2 linked regions of the Homo sapiens genome follow. The protein of the gene in region 1 purifies or fractionates together with the protein of each later gene. This does not show direct contact. Each region holds a gene or a part of one and is shown on either strand. Other genes may lie near its edges.

Region 1 (7,028 bases):
GATCGTAACACTACAAGAAATGTAGGGGAAAAGGTAGATACATCTCTAAATAACGTTAACTGGAGGTAAGACTATGTAGCTTCATAAAATATAATATCTATAATTACATTAAAATACCTGAAGGAAATCCACCCCCAAAAAATATATTAAACAAGTCTTCTGGAGTTATATCAGCTTCACAACCTCTATGGAAATTAAATCTGCCATTGTTTTGGTGGTTACATGCTTGTTCTTCATTGCCCGTGAGGTCATACTGTTTTCGCTTTTCTGGATTACTTAAAACAGCATAAGCATTTCCAATCTCTGAAAAAGTAATGAGTAAAAGTTGGTAAGCAAAGTTTTTATATTATAAAAGGCTGCCCCACATAAAAACTAACATCATGCTGAAAAAAAGACTACCTAAAACTATCCAGAAAATTGTTAAAAATAAGTTCTTTTAAAGATATACATTGTTTGCAATTACATATATTATCTCTCAACACAACTTTTTATACCAGACAAGTCTCTCTACTGCCTTGAAAACAAAGGAATATCCATCTTCCTTTTTTAATATTGTGCTCCATCTCCTAAAATCCTGCCTCTTAAGCCATTCTTCAAGTGGTTTAAACCAATAACAATAGCAGTAGCTATCATTTATTGAGTACCTAAGAACTGCCAGGCTCTGCACCCAATACCTTATTACATTGTCCATTATTATCCTCACTTTACAAATGAGGGCCCTGAAATTCAAGAAGGTTAAATAACTCATGCAAAGTCAAATTATTCTTAGCACGATAAATACACTCTCTTTATGCAGCCCATACCAAAAATCTTTTTTTGCACCCTGGAGCCTGAATGAGCTATTTTTTCATTCTATTATCCCAAACAATTTATCCCCTAAAACAGTAAACTCCATAAAGACAGGGACTGTGTTTATGTTTTCATGGCAATATCCCCAAGGTCCAGCATAAAGTCTGAATTAGTTTTTAAATAAATACAGACAGTCCTCAGTTTTTCTATTTCACTTTGCTACCTTCACAACATTTATTTATAAAAAAGAATTCTCTTTCCCATCTCACAGTCCCAAATCCAAAAGAGGTAATGTTACACTGGTTACCAGAATTTACTTAAAACAGCATAAGCATTTCCAATCTCTGAAAAAGAAATGAGTAAAAGTAGGTAAGCAAAGTTTTTATATTATAAAAGTCTGCCCCACATAAAAACTAATGTCATGCTGAAAAAAAAGACTACCTGAAACTAATCCAGAAAATTGTTAAAATTTACAAATTTACCAATTTACAAGTTGTAATGCTTTGAATCTAAAACTAAGAACTATCCTATTCGTACTCTGACACTTCTAATAGTTAATCACTTCATAAATACATCTTGCTTCTTAAACTAGATTGTAAGCCTCTTGCAATACAGAATATTTTAAAAATAGTTTTTGGATCCCATGTGGTGGCTGCCATAGGTACTGTACAAGCAAACAGATGCTCATTAGGTAGTTGTTTTTGGATGATTACACATTACACTGAAATTAATTATATACAATACTCTGGATATTTTCTTCTAATCGAGCTTCTTAAAACTGGGATTCAGAGATTGCTTTCAAATGGTGAGTATACCCTGCTGAATGAAAAATTAGGTGAATGATCCATCTATCTGAGGAGATACTTTCTTCAGATTCTCAAAGAATCTGTGACTCAGAACTGTGGCCATCATTTATGAGTTATTTCAAAGGGAAAGTATAATCAAAGATCCAAACAATGTACTTACAAACAACATCAAGGTATTAACTCATACCTAAAAAAAGAAGCATATCTATCAATCTCTGCTAAAATTGTATTTTTAGTAACAATATCAATTTTAGGATTTAACATCTATAAACTAAAAGGGCTATCCCATGTAATGCAATAATGCTACTTTAATAGTTTTAATACTTTAAAACTATTAATATATAGGCAACCCAATTCTATTTTAAGGCTTCCTTTTTTAGAAAAAATAATTTCTAAACATTAAGATATTTTAGATGGTATTTGAGAAATACTGTCATAATCTATAATTGTACACATAAGACAATTTATATATTGTGGCCAGAGTAAATTTCTATTCATTTACTTTGTGCTATACCCATATAATCAAGATTTTTTTGCAGTTCCTTATTATCTAAATAATTATATCCTAAATTTATTTTGGTATTCATAAGTTTTACAAAACGCATTTCTACCTCATTGTCACTTATTTCACCAAAAGGTACCTTCCACTTCATTTATTTTTCTTTAAACTTTTAATACACAGATCCACTGTACCTTTCCCCTAATTTTTCCCAACAGTAATATTTTGCAAAATTATCTTACAATATCACAAACAGGATATTGACACTGATATAGTCAGGATATAGAACATTTCTAACACCACTCTCATGTTGCTCTTTCATAACCACATCCAACTCCTCCTCCCTCCCTTCCCAACCCCTGACAACCATTCATCTATTCTCCATTTTGACAGTTTTGTCATTTCAAGAATATTATATTAATGAAATAACACAGTATATAAATGGGATATTATATGATATATAAATGGAATGAAACCTTTTGGGATTGGCTTTGTAAATCATAATACTCTGGAGATCCAGGTTGTCATATATGCCAACAGTTCATTTCTTTTTATTAGTGAGTAGTAGTCCATGGTTAAGGATGTACCACTGTTTAACCATTTACCACTGAATAACATCTAGTTTTTTTCTAGTTTTTGGCTATTACAAATAAAATTGCTATATATATTCATGTACAGGATTAGGTGTAAACATAAATCTTCATTCCTCTGGAATAAATCCCCAGGAGTGCATTGCTGGGTTGTATAGTAGCTGCACAGATTTTTGAGAAACTGCCCAACTGTTGTACAGAACAGCTGTGTCATTATATATCCCATTAACAATGTATGAGTGATCCATTCCCTGCATCCATACCAGCATTTGGTATTGTCATTATTTTTCACTCTAGCCATTCTGATAAATGTGTAGTGATATCCCATTTTGGTTTTACTTTGCATTTCTCTAATGACTAATGAATGACAGAGAAAATCTTTCACTGTGCTTATTTGCCCTCTGTATATCATCTTCAAAGGAATGCCTCTTCATTTTTTTGCCCATTCTAATTGGACTGTCTGTTATTTTACTTTTGAGTGTTTGGAGTTCTTTATATTTAATATATTCAAGATACCTGTCCTTTGTCAAATACGTGCCTGGCAAATCTTTTTTTCCATCCTGGAGCTTCTTTTCATCCTCGTAATAAGGCAGAGCAAGCTTAAAAAATCTTAAAGTCCAACTTAACAACTTTTCCTTTTATGTACTGTGCTTTTGGGATTAAGTCTTAAAAAATCATTGCCTCACCCTAGATCCTAAAGATTGACTCCCATTATTGTTGATTGTTATGTTTTATATTTACATTCATGATCTATTTCGAGTTCATTTTGTGTATAAGGGATGATACTTTTCGTCAGGGTTAATTTTTTGGCCTATGGGTGTCCAATTGCCTCAAAACCAACTGTTGAAAAGGCTATCTTTCCTCCATCGAACTGCTTTTGCATCTTTGTCAAAAAACAGTTGGCTATATTGGTATCAGTCTATTTCTGGGTTTCCTATCTCGTTCTATTGATCTATGTGTGTATCTCTCTGCCATTACCACGCAGTTTTGTTTACTGTTTATCTATACAGTAAATCCTGAAATCAGGAACACTGATTACTCCAACTACATTCTTTTAACAGAAATAAATGTTTTTAAATATTCAGGTTCTTTCTTCCCCTCATATGAATTTTAGAATAAAACTTGTTTCTATCTACAAAACAAATCCTGCTAGGATTTTGACAGGAATTGTGTTAAATCTGTATATCAATCTGTGATGACTTGACTTTTTTTTTTTTTTAAGACAGAGTTTTGCTCTTGTTGTCCTGGCTGGAGCGCAACGGCGCGATCTCGGCTCATTGCAACCTCCACCTCCCAGGTTCAAGTGATTCTCCTACCTCAGCCTCCTGAGTAGCTGGGATTACAGGCATGCGCCACCACGCCTCGCTAATGTTGTACTTTTAGTAGAGATGGGGTTTCTCCATGTTGGTCAGGCTGGTCTAAAGCTCCCGATCTCAGGTGATCTGCCCACCTCGGCCTCCCAAAGTGCTGGGATTACAGGTGTGAGTCACCGTGCCCAGCCGACTTGACATCTTTACTATGTTGAATCTTCCCATCCATGAACATGATATTTCAGTCCATTTATTTAGCTATTTTCTGATTTCTTTAATCAATATTGTATAGCTTTCAGTATATAAATGTGATAAAAGTTTTATTAAACTTACACCTAAGTATTTTTTTGTATGTATGATTGTAAATGCTAATGTATTATTAATTTTAGTGTCTAAATATTCATTGCTAGTAAATAGAAATGCAATTAATTTTTTGTAGATTTATATTGTGTCCTGCAATCTTACGGGATTTGCTTTGTAGTCACAGTTTTTTCTGTAGATTCCTTGGATTTCTACATAGATAATCATGTCATTTGCACATAACAACAGTTTTAGCTCTTCTTTTCCAGTCTGTATGCCTTTTATTTCCTTTTTCTCTCTTTAACGCAGTGATTACTACTTCCTGCACTTTGTTGAATATGAGTGGTAAAGAGATATTCTTGCTTTATTCTTGATCATAGGGGAAAAGCATTCAGTCTTTCACCATTTAATGTTAGCTTACAGGAGTTCTGTAGTTGCTCTTTATCAAGTTGAGGCAGGTCCCTTCTATTGCTATTTTTCTGACAGTTTTTATCATGAATGGGTGGTGAAATGTATCAAATGCTTTTATTCCACTGATTAATATAATCGTGGGATTTTTTTTCTTTAATTAATGTGGTGGATTACACTTATTGATCTTCAAATAGTGAATTGACTTTGCTACCTTGAAATAAACTTCTATTGTTTGGGGTATATAATTCTTTTTATATACTGCAAAATTCTGATATTTTGTTAAGGACATTTGGGTTTATCCCACAAAGTATACTGGTCTGTAGTTTTTTTTTTTTTTTTTTTCTGTAATGTCTTTGGTTTTGATATAAGCAAGGTAAAACATTTCTTAACATTAACTGGAAAATGTCTCTTCCTCTTCTATTTTCTGGAAGAGATTATGTAGAATTAGTTTTAATTCTTCCTTAAAAAGTTTGGTAGACTTCTTCAATAAGAGCATCTGAGCCTGGATATTTCTTTTTTGGGAATTTCATAATTACAACTTTAATTCACTGAACAGTTCTGTCTTAGTCCATTTTGTGTTGCTATAGAAAAATACCTGAGACTAGCTTATGGTTCTATAGGCTGAAAAGTTTGTGGGCATAGCCTTGGCTTCTGGTGAGGGCTTTTGTGCTGCATAACATGGTGGAGAAAATCAAAGGGGAAGCAGACAGGTGCAAAGAGGGGAAAACCTGAGGGGTGTCCTGGCTTTATAACAACCCACTCATTCGGGAAATAATCAATTCCTTCAAGAACTAATCTAGCCTCAAGAGAGCAAGAACTTACTACTGTGAGAACAGCAGCAAGACATTCATGAGGGATCTGCCCCCATAACACAAACACTTCCCACTAGGCTACACCTCCCAACACTGCCACATTGAGGATCAAATTTCAATATACTGAACCAACCCAAATGTCCAACAATGATAGACTGCATTAAGAAAATGTGGCACATATACACCATGGAATACTATGCAGCCATAAAAATGATGAGTTCATGTCCTTTCTAGGGACATGGATGAGGCTGGAAACCATCATTCTCAGCAAACTATCGCAAGGACAAAAAACCAAACACCGCATGTTCTTACTCATAGGTGGGAATTGAACAATGAGAACCCTTGGACGCAGGAAGGGGAACATCACACACTGGGGCCTGTTGTGGGGTGGGGGGAGTGGCGAGGGATAGCATTAGGAGAAATACCTTATGTAAATGACGAGTTAACGGATGCAGCACACCAACATGGCACATGTATACATATGTAACAAACCTGCACGTTGTGCACATGTACCCTAGAACTTAAAGGATAATAAAAATATATATATAAAATAAAAAATAAAAATAAAAATTAAAAAATTTCAATATACCCAAACCACAGCAATTTCTACAGGGCTATTCACGTTATCTATGTCAGACTGAGTTGTGATGATTTGTATTTTTCAACTAACTGGCCCATCTCATCTAACTTGTAAACTTATGTATATGGAATTGTTCATAGTATTCTCTTATTATCCGTTTGATGTCTGCAGTGATATCCTTGTCTCTGACACCATTTCTGACAATGGTCATTTCTGTCTTCTTTTTTTGGTCAGTCTTTCAATTTTATTGATTTTTTTCAGAGAACCAGCTCTGTTTCATTGATATTCACTATTGTTACTCTTTTCAATTGTACTGATTTCTACTCTTATAATTTCTTTTGCTTGCTTTGAGTTTATTTTGCTATTCTTTTTCTAGATTTGTAAGGTAGAAGCATAGATAACTGATTTGAGGCTGTTCTTCTTTTCTAACATATGCATTTCATGTTACAAGTTTCCTCTCAGCATTCCTTTAGCTGGTCTTCTCAAATTTTAATTGTTGTATTTTCATTTTTAGTTAGTTCACTGCGAGCTCCGCCTCCCAGGTTCATGCCATTCTCCTGCCTCAGCCTCCCGAGTAGCTGGGACCACAGGCGCCCGCCACCACGCCCGGCTACTTTTTTGTATTTTTAGTAGAGATGGGGTTTCATCGTGTTAGCCAAGATGGTCTCAAATTCCTGACCTTGCGATCCACCCACCTCGGCCTCCCAAAGTGCTGGGATCACAGGCGTGAGCCACTGTGCCTGGCCAAGTTAGATCAATATGTTTTTTCAAATTTGTTTTGATATTTCCTGTTTGACCCATGGATACTTAGAAATTTGTTGTTCAGTTTCCAAGGACTGGACGTTTTCCTATTACCTTTGTGTAACTGATTTCCACTTTGATTCCACTGTGGTTAGTGAACATACTTGTATGATTTCAATATTTTAAATTA
Region 2 (7,028 bases), on another chromosome or scaffold:
CCTTCCTGGGTGTCTCAGCCCCACCTGTCCTAGGGTCTCTGTGCTTGACAGGCAGTTGGGGACTCTTGGGAGCCGCCACCTGGAGCTCAGCCAGACCCCTGGGACGTGTCCTTTTTTTTATTTTTTGAGTTGGAGTTTTGCTCTTGTTGCCCAGGCTGGAGTGCAATGGTGCGATCTTGGCTCACTGCAACCTCCGCCTCCAGAGTTCAAGCAATTCTCCTGCCTCAGCATCCCGAGTAGCTGGGATTACAGGCATGTGCCACCACACCCAACTAATTTTGTACTTTCAGTAGAGATGGGGTTTCTCCATGTTGGTCAGGATGGTCTCGAACTCCCGACGTCAGGCGATCCGCCTGCCTCAGCCTCCCAAAGTGCTGGGATTACAGGCGTGAGCCACCGCGCCCAGCCTTTAGCTGAGCATTTCTGCACAGGAAATATCAGTGTGACTTTGAAGGGTTTCCCCAGAGTAAAATTCTATATCCTTTCTTAGAAACCTCAATGCTTGGGCCTAACAACTTTTAGTTTTAAAATACGGAGTAATTAGCAATGGCTTTGGGGTCAGGAAATTGGGTTCCCACATCAGCTTTGTCCTTAACTATTGATCAAGTCAGATCCCTCGAGATTCCTCCTTTTTTTTCATATCTTTTCGTAAAAATTTCTGTAAAGCTGTAAAGCTCAGCTTGAAAATCTTTTTTTTCTTTTTTCTTTCTTTTTTTTTTTTTTTTTTTGGAGACAAAGTCTTACTCTGTCACCCAGGCTGGAGTGCAGTGGCATGATCTTGGCTCACTGCAACCTCTGCCTCCCGGGTTCAAAAGATTCTCCTGCCTCAGCCTCCCGAGTAGCAGGGATTACAGGCACCTGCCACCACACCCGGCTCATTTTTGTATTTTTAGTAGAGACAGGGTTTCAACATCTTGGCCAGGCTGGTCTTGAACTCCTGACCTCGTGATCCACCCGCCTCAGCCTCCCAAAGTGCTGAGATTATGGGCGTGAGCCACTGCGCCCGGCCAGCTTGAAAATCTTTGACCAGCTGGGTGCAGTGGCTCATACCTATAATCCCAGCACTTTGGGAGGCCAAGGCAGGAGGATCGCTTGAGCCGAGGAGTTCGGGACCAGCCTGGGCAACATAAGAAGATGCCATCTCTACGAAAAAATTTTTTAAATTAGCGGGGCATGGTGATGCACACCTATAATCCCAGCTACTTGGGAGACTAAGGTGGGAGGATCAGTTGAGCTGGGGAAGTTGAGGCTGCAGTGAACCATGATCATGCCATTGCACTCCAGCCTGGGTGACAGAGTGACTCTGTCTCAAAAAAACAAAAAAATTACTATCCTTTGTCATTGTTGTTATTGTTGTTTTTGAGACAGGATCTCACTCTGCCACCCAGGCTGGAGTGCAGTATCATGGCTCACCCCAGCCTAAACCTCCCGGGCTCATACGCTCCCCCAACTTCAGCCTCCTGAGTAGCTGGGACCACGGGTATGCACCACCATACCCAGCTAATTTTTAATTTTTTTTTTTTTTTTAGAGACAAGAGCTCCCTTTGGTTGCCCAGGCTGGTCTCGAACTTCTGGGCTCAAGTGATCCTCCTGCTTTGGCCTCCCAAAGTGCTGGGATTATAGGCATAAGCCACTGTGCCTGTCCTACTATCATTTTTTTTCTAATGACATCGTGCTCCCCTTTTCCCAAAACTGAAGTTTCGCGTACAAATATGCTTTGGCCTAAAAATTCTGGTTCGGTTTTTTCTCTTAATTCGTGGTTCTTTGGTACTGTTCCTTTTATTGTAAACTGCCACAATTATTATTATTATTGGAACTGGCACAATAGAAATAACACCACCATTCTTACCTCAAAGGTAATAACATTCATTAATGATTTCTCATTTGGGCTCCAGTAACACTGTGAGGGGATCAGTGCGTTGACCCTCTATGTGGAAGTTATCATTTTTGCTGCTGATGACAATGAAGCCCTTCACGTGTGTCTTGTTAGTTTCCTTTTGGTTGGTTTTTAGTAAAGATGGAGAAGTGCTCCCTGCTGCCACTTCTTAAACGACCAACGTCCAGGTTTGCTGTCCTGTCTTACTCGTTTGATTTTATAGCTCTGCAGTTTCTATTGAAGTAGACACTCCTAACACAGGGGTAGGTGTAAATGTGATACCTTTGGGAAGAGGCACTTAGTCCCCGAGGTCCTTGGAGTTGCTCCAGCTCTCAAGGAGGAGGCCAAAGGTGCAGCGTCTGGAGCAGCTCTGACTGGGGTGAAAGGTGAGGAGGAGATGACCTGGAGTTAGTGGGTCTCTCGAATAGTGATGGACCCAAGTGAGTGGTTTCCTGTTGCCCTAGGAACAGATGGAAATATTGAAAGGAACTGCTGTCAGCTTGAATTTAGCCTGGGCTGGGGAGGTAGACACCGCTCTCAGCCAAGCTCCTTCCCTTGGCCGGCCTCGGCTGCCCCGGGTACAAAGTGAGACGTCGGCCTAGATGCTTTCTGAGAGGAGTCCCCAGCTGTTACATTCTGTAGGCCCCTATACAGGAGACTGTGCTTGGGATCAGCCTGCTGGGGCTGCAGGGACCCTCCCTGTGCTTTGCAGGTGTTTGTCCCAGAGATGGCAGCGCGGAGGCAACGCGTCCAACTCCTGCACCGTTCTCTCCCTGCTCGGAGCCCCCTGTGCCTTCATGGGCTCAATGGCTCCTGGCCATGTTGCTGAGTAAGTCCAGGAGGGAGAGCCCACTGGGGAAGGCCTGCCTGCATCATTGTGGGAGAAGAAGGATGTATCCACCCTGGGTGGATGGGGGATTAGAAATGGGTTGTGTCCAGCAGAAACGCGGGGAGGGGGCATGGCGGAGCACCAGACGCCCAGCCCTGCCTTGGCGTGGCCTCTCTGCGGTTCGGGGGCTGATGCTGCCCCTGTGAAGCTTTCCTTGCCACAGCTTGTTTCCTGGACACTTCTGGAGCCTGCTTCAGCCTCTTCCTTTCTCCTTCCTTGCTTCCTGCAGACTCTGCGGTGGATGTGCCTTTGCCTTATCTTAAGTCCCTTATCCTGGCCATGCTTGAGGCAGAAGGCAGTTAGGGACACGTGGTACCCATCCTCCCCCAGGTCCAGGCCCACAGTTTCTGTCCCAGTTGAGAGGCAGGGCTGGTGCTCATGTCCCTGTTGTTCACTGAAGCAGTGAGAGTACCCTGTTCAAGGACACCCTGAAGCCACATGCTAAAGCTGGGCTCAGAACCCACACCTCCCAGTTCCCCGGCTGTCAGGGCTATAGCCCTAAATGGCTCATGCACGCCCTCCATGTTGGCTGCTGCAGGGACCTCAGAGCCCTTTGACCCCTGGCGCTGCCGACTCAGCAAGCACTTATCGGGAGGTGAGGCCCACACTTTGCACACTGTGGGCACGGGGGCAGGCTGCCAGGTTGCTGGCCTGTGAAGGGCAGCCCTTTGAACCCTGGTTTGAAGGGGGCTGCTGGCAGAGTCCAACCACCTGAGCTACAGCCAAACTCCCTGCCTTGATGAACTGGCAGGAAGAGAATAGAGGGAGAGAATCTGCCCTGTGAGATGGGACAGGACGGCTCAGAACCAAGGGCTGGTGACTCATTAAACCTCTTTAATAGCTCCTTTCCTCTGAGCTAGAGGCAGGACTGTGGCTCTGGCTTAGGATGGTCGACTCTCCTTTACATAGCAATCAGGCCAATGGGTGGTTTATTCAGAATTCTCCCCATGTGCTCGACAAACATTTAGAGAGCACCTACCATGTCCCAGGCACTGGGGTGCGAAAGTTATTTGGCAAACCAAACCATATTTCCAATGCTTTGGGAAAGTTACTATTTAAAGGAGTTGTAAGTCAAGGGATGATGCCCTGACTTGGTATCTTTATGCAAATCTGTATTATCCAGCTTTGGTGTTGCTGAAAGCGGGCTCTGGCCAGGTGAGAAAAGCCAGGATGGTGGCTGGACTGCTGGGCATAATTGCCAGTTCTTGAGCACAGAACAATGCCTGTCCATAGAGGGCTGGAAGGGCTGGGGCTGACCTCCTTGTCCTTGCCCCTGGGCTCACTCTGCATGGAGGGCATTCCAGGAGAGAGTTCTGGACCAGGCCCATACTGAGTGGCATCAGGCACGGGGAGCCAGCTGATTGCCCAGGAGGGTTCACCTGGCTGCAGGAGGACAAAGCAGTGAGCTGGCTCACCAAGGCAGCACCACTTCCAGGCTGGGCCTCCTGGAGGCAGGCAGAGAGTGAGAGGAATCACAGCATTAGGACTGGGAGGGACTGAGAGAGGACAGCACCCTGGATGAGCTTGTGGAGGACAGCTGGGGGCAAAGTATTGCCTTGGAGATTAATTATTAATCCTGTTTGGGCATTGCAGGAAACAAGCCACGGTGCCCCCACATGCTTGGTTCAAACAGTGTACAGGTTCTAGGGTCCTGTCTAGCTTTATGAACAGGAGCAAATCCTTTCCAGCATGAGTTGGACTGAAAAACAGAGTCAGGATCGGAGCATGCTTCAGCCAAGACCTAAAAGGATGGCCCTTAGTGTTTCTCTCTCTGAGCTCCAGGCTCTGCACTCCTGCATCTCCTGCCCTGTTGCACTGCCTGTGGCAAGACTGTGATTCCCAGTTCTCTCCCAGCCCCCTTTGCTTGCACCCCTGCCTTTCAGGGTCCCTAGTGGCCCTGCCAGCTACCCTCCAGTCCCCAAAACCCTTGTCGAACTGCACCCCCTTCGGGTTACTCCGCCCTAGCAGTTTTGTCCTGGATGACCTCCGCCGCTATTCTGTGGACCTACGCTACACAGTCTTTCAGACCACAGGCTCCGTCCCCATCGCCACGGTCATCATCAACGAGGCCAGTGGTAGCCGCACCATCCTATACTATGACAGGTTTGTACAACTGTCTGTGCCTTGCCAGCTGCTGCCGCCGCCACCAAAACTCCCAGAACAGGACTCTTCTTCTCTTAGAGGCTCGTGTGCTCCAGCACCCTCTCCCCACTCCTTTTGGAGGTCCAGACCACTTCCAGGCTCTAATCTGTGTCTCCTTGCCCTTTTCCTGGCCCGGCCTCCACCCTAAGCTTCCTGGTGGCCGACTTCAGGCGGCGGGGCGTGGACGTGTCTCAGGTGGCCTGGCAGAGCAAGGGGGACACCCCCAGCTCCTGCTGCATCATCAACAACTCCAATGGCAACCGTACCATTGTGCTCCATGACACGTAAGGCCCCCGGGCCTCGCCCTGCTACAACCCACCAATCAGTTGGCTCAATCAGTTCCCTCACTCGCCACCATGGGCATCCCAACTGCCCCCCTCTGTGGCTTCTGTGTACCAGAAGTTGCTCCCCTGCCAAAATGTCCAGTGATTTCCTAATTGCTTTCAATTAGGGGAAAAGTGAGGTGGGAAGGGATGGGCTTTGCTGTGCCTGGTGACTTGGCCTTGGTCAACACCAAAGAAGGGCAGGCAGGCCTATATAAACTGTAATTTATTAAGTGATTCCTCCATAATTATTAAATCGTTAATCAGCAGCTTGGCTGTGGGTGCGGGGAAACTGTTCTCAGGACAGAAGGGTGGGAGATGGGATTCAACCCTTCTTAAGAAGGGCTGTGGGGGGGTGCCCACTGGGATTTCCAAAGTCAGCCCCAGAGTTGCCAGCCTGCAGCATGGCACCAAGGAGCTGGGGTTTGGGTGTGTAAAAGAGATCAGCCCCCCAAAGTTTCCAGCATGATGAAGCCAGGCCACACACCATTCACAGCCATTGCTGAAGGAGGGGAAAGGAAACATGGGGTCAGCAGATCAGGGTCATCTAACATGGTGCTGACCTGGGGGAAGGGGCTATCCCTCCCTTCAGGGTCCCAGGCCACTCAAGAGAGGCCCCATGGGCCTAGACACTTCTTATCCCTTGCAGACTCCCTCCTGCAGGATTTTAGAGGTTTAGTGTACTAAGAACCTAGTACGTGCCAGGTACTGTTATGGCTGAGAGGGCCCAAGCCCAGCAGCCCTCAGGTTCAGGCTGTTCCTACGGCCCAGCCTGACTGCCGGACCTGGAGGAGGGGCAGCCATCCCTGGGCTTCATATGTGCAGTGAGTGTGAGTAGGCAGGCATATGTGCTACAGGTGACCTTCGCATTGGGCAATCCTAGTCAAATGCTTGTTAAGCAACAATCCGTAGTAACCCTGATCAAGGACACAACATAGCTATTTACAGGAGAGGAGCTCTGAGGAGAAATGTTTCTTGCCCACTGGCCTCAGTCCAGGCACATTCACACACATTACCTGCAACTGCAGCAGGCTGCAAGGGGGCTGGGGGTTTCAGCCCCATTTATCAATGTGGAAGTTGCCTCCCAAAGGCCCGGGCAGATCACACAGCTATAGTTAAGTGGAAGGACTCGGCTACAGAACGTGGAGCGGGGACTTTGGCTGAGTTGAGGTCTCTGGCTCAGGAGGGTCAAGGCAGACCTCTATCGGGAGTCCCCTTTCCTAAACCGGCCAAACACAAACTCTTCCTCAAGTGCTACCTTGACCTCAGGGTTGCAACGGGGAGCTATTAAACGCAGGACAGGGGTGCCATAGGTAAACCCCAACGCTGGGGCGCCAGAAGTGAGGGGGACCAGACAGCCCAGGCAGGGGGTCGCGGGCTTTATACTTTCCCAGGGCTCTGCCTGTGGGAGCCGTGTGCTGCTGCAAGGGATTCTGGGAAGTGTAGGCTTGGCGCTCTCAGTGCATTCTGGGAGATGCAGTCTCCAAGGCACACAGACCTTGCCAGTTGACATGTGTTGCAGTTCAGTTTACCGAGATAATTTAATCACAACCTCAAACTCAGGAAAGGGCACCCCAGCAGACTGTAACAGGGACAACCCTGGAGCTGAGCCTGAGAATCCTGTGCTGTGGATCCAGCTTCCTGTCATGCTGCCAGCAGTGCAGGCACAGGGTCCACAGCTGCCAGTTAGAGATCCTGGCTCTGCCTGACCCCATCATGCTCCTTCTTCTCTGTCTTTTCCATCCTGTGACCTAGGAGCCTGCCAGATGTGTCTGCTACAGACTTTGAGAAGGTTGAT

The links. Proteins that work in one complex are often made in the same cells at the same time.
Region 2: the proteins of DNAJB14 (region 1) and KHK purify together in Homo sapiens (affinity purification with mass spectrometry; 2 studies listed by BioGRID and IntAct, with this or other methods). This does not show direct contact.

What each region holds. Positions count from the first base shown.
Region 1 is NC_000004.12:99,908,594-99,915,621, forward strand, and holds part of DNAJB14 (dnaJ homolog subfamily B member 14), read right to left. Parts: intron 304-7,028; coding exon 118-303; intron 1-117. UniProt on the Homo sapiens protein: Acts as a co-chaperone with HSPA8/Hsc70; required to promote protein folding and trafficking, prevent aggregation of client proteins, and promote unfolded proteins to endoplasmic reticulum-associated degradation (ERAD) pathway.
Region 2 is NC_000002.12:27,089,744-27,096,771, forward strand, and holds part of KHK (ketohexokinase), read left to right. Parts: intron 1-2,588; coding exon 2,589-2,705; intron 2,706-4,730; coding exon of another isoform or gene 4,731-4,868; intron 4,869-5,056; coding exon 5,057-5,191; intron 5,192-6,985; coding exon 6,986-7,028. UniProt on the Homo sapiens protein: Catalyzes the phosphorylation of the ketose sugar fructose to fructose-1-phosphate.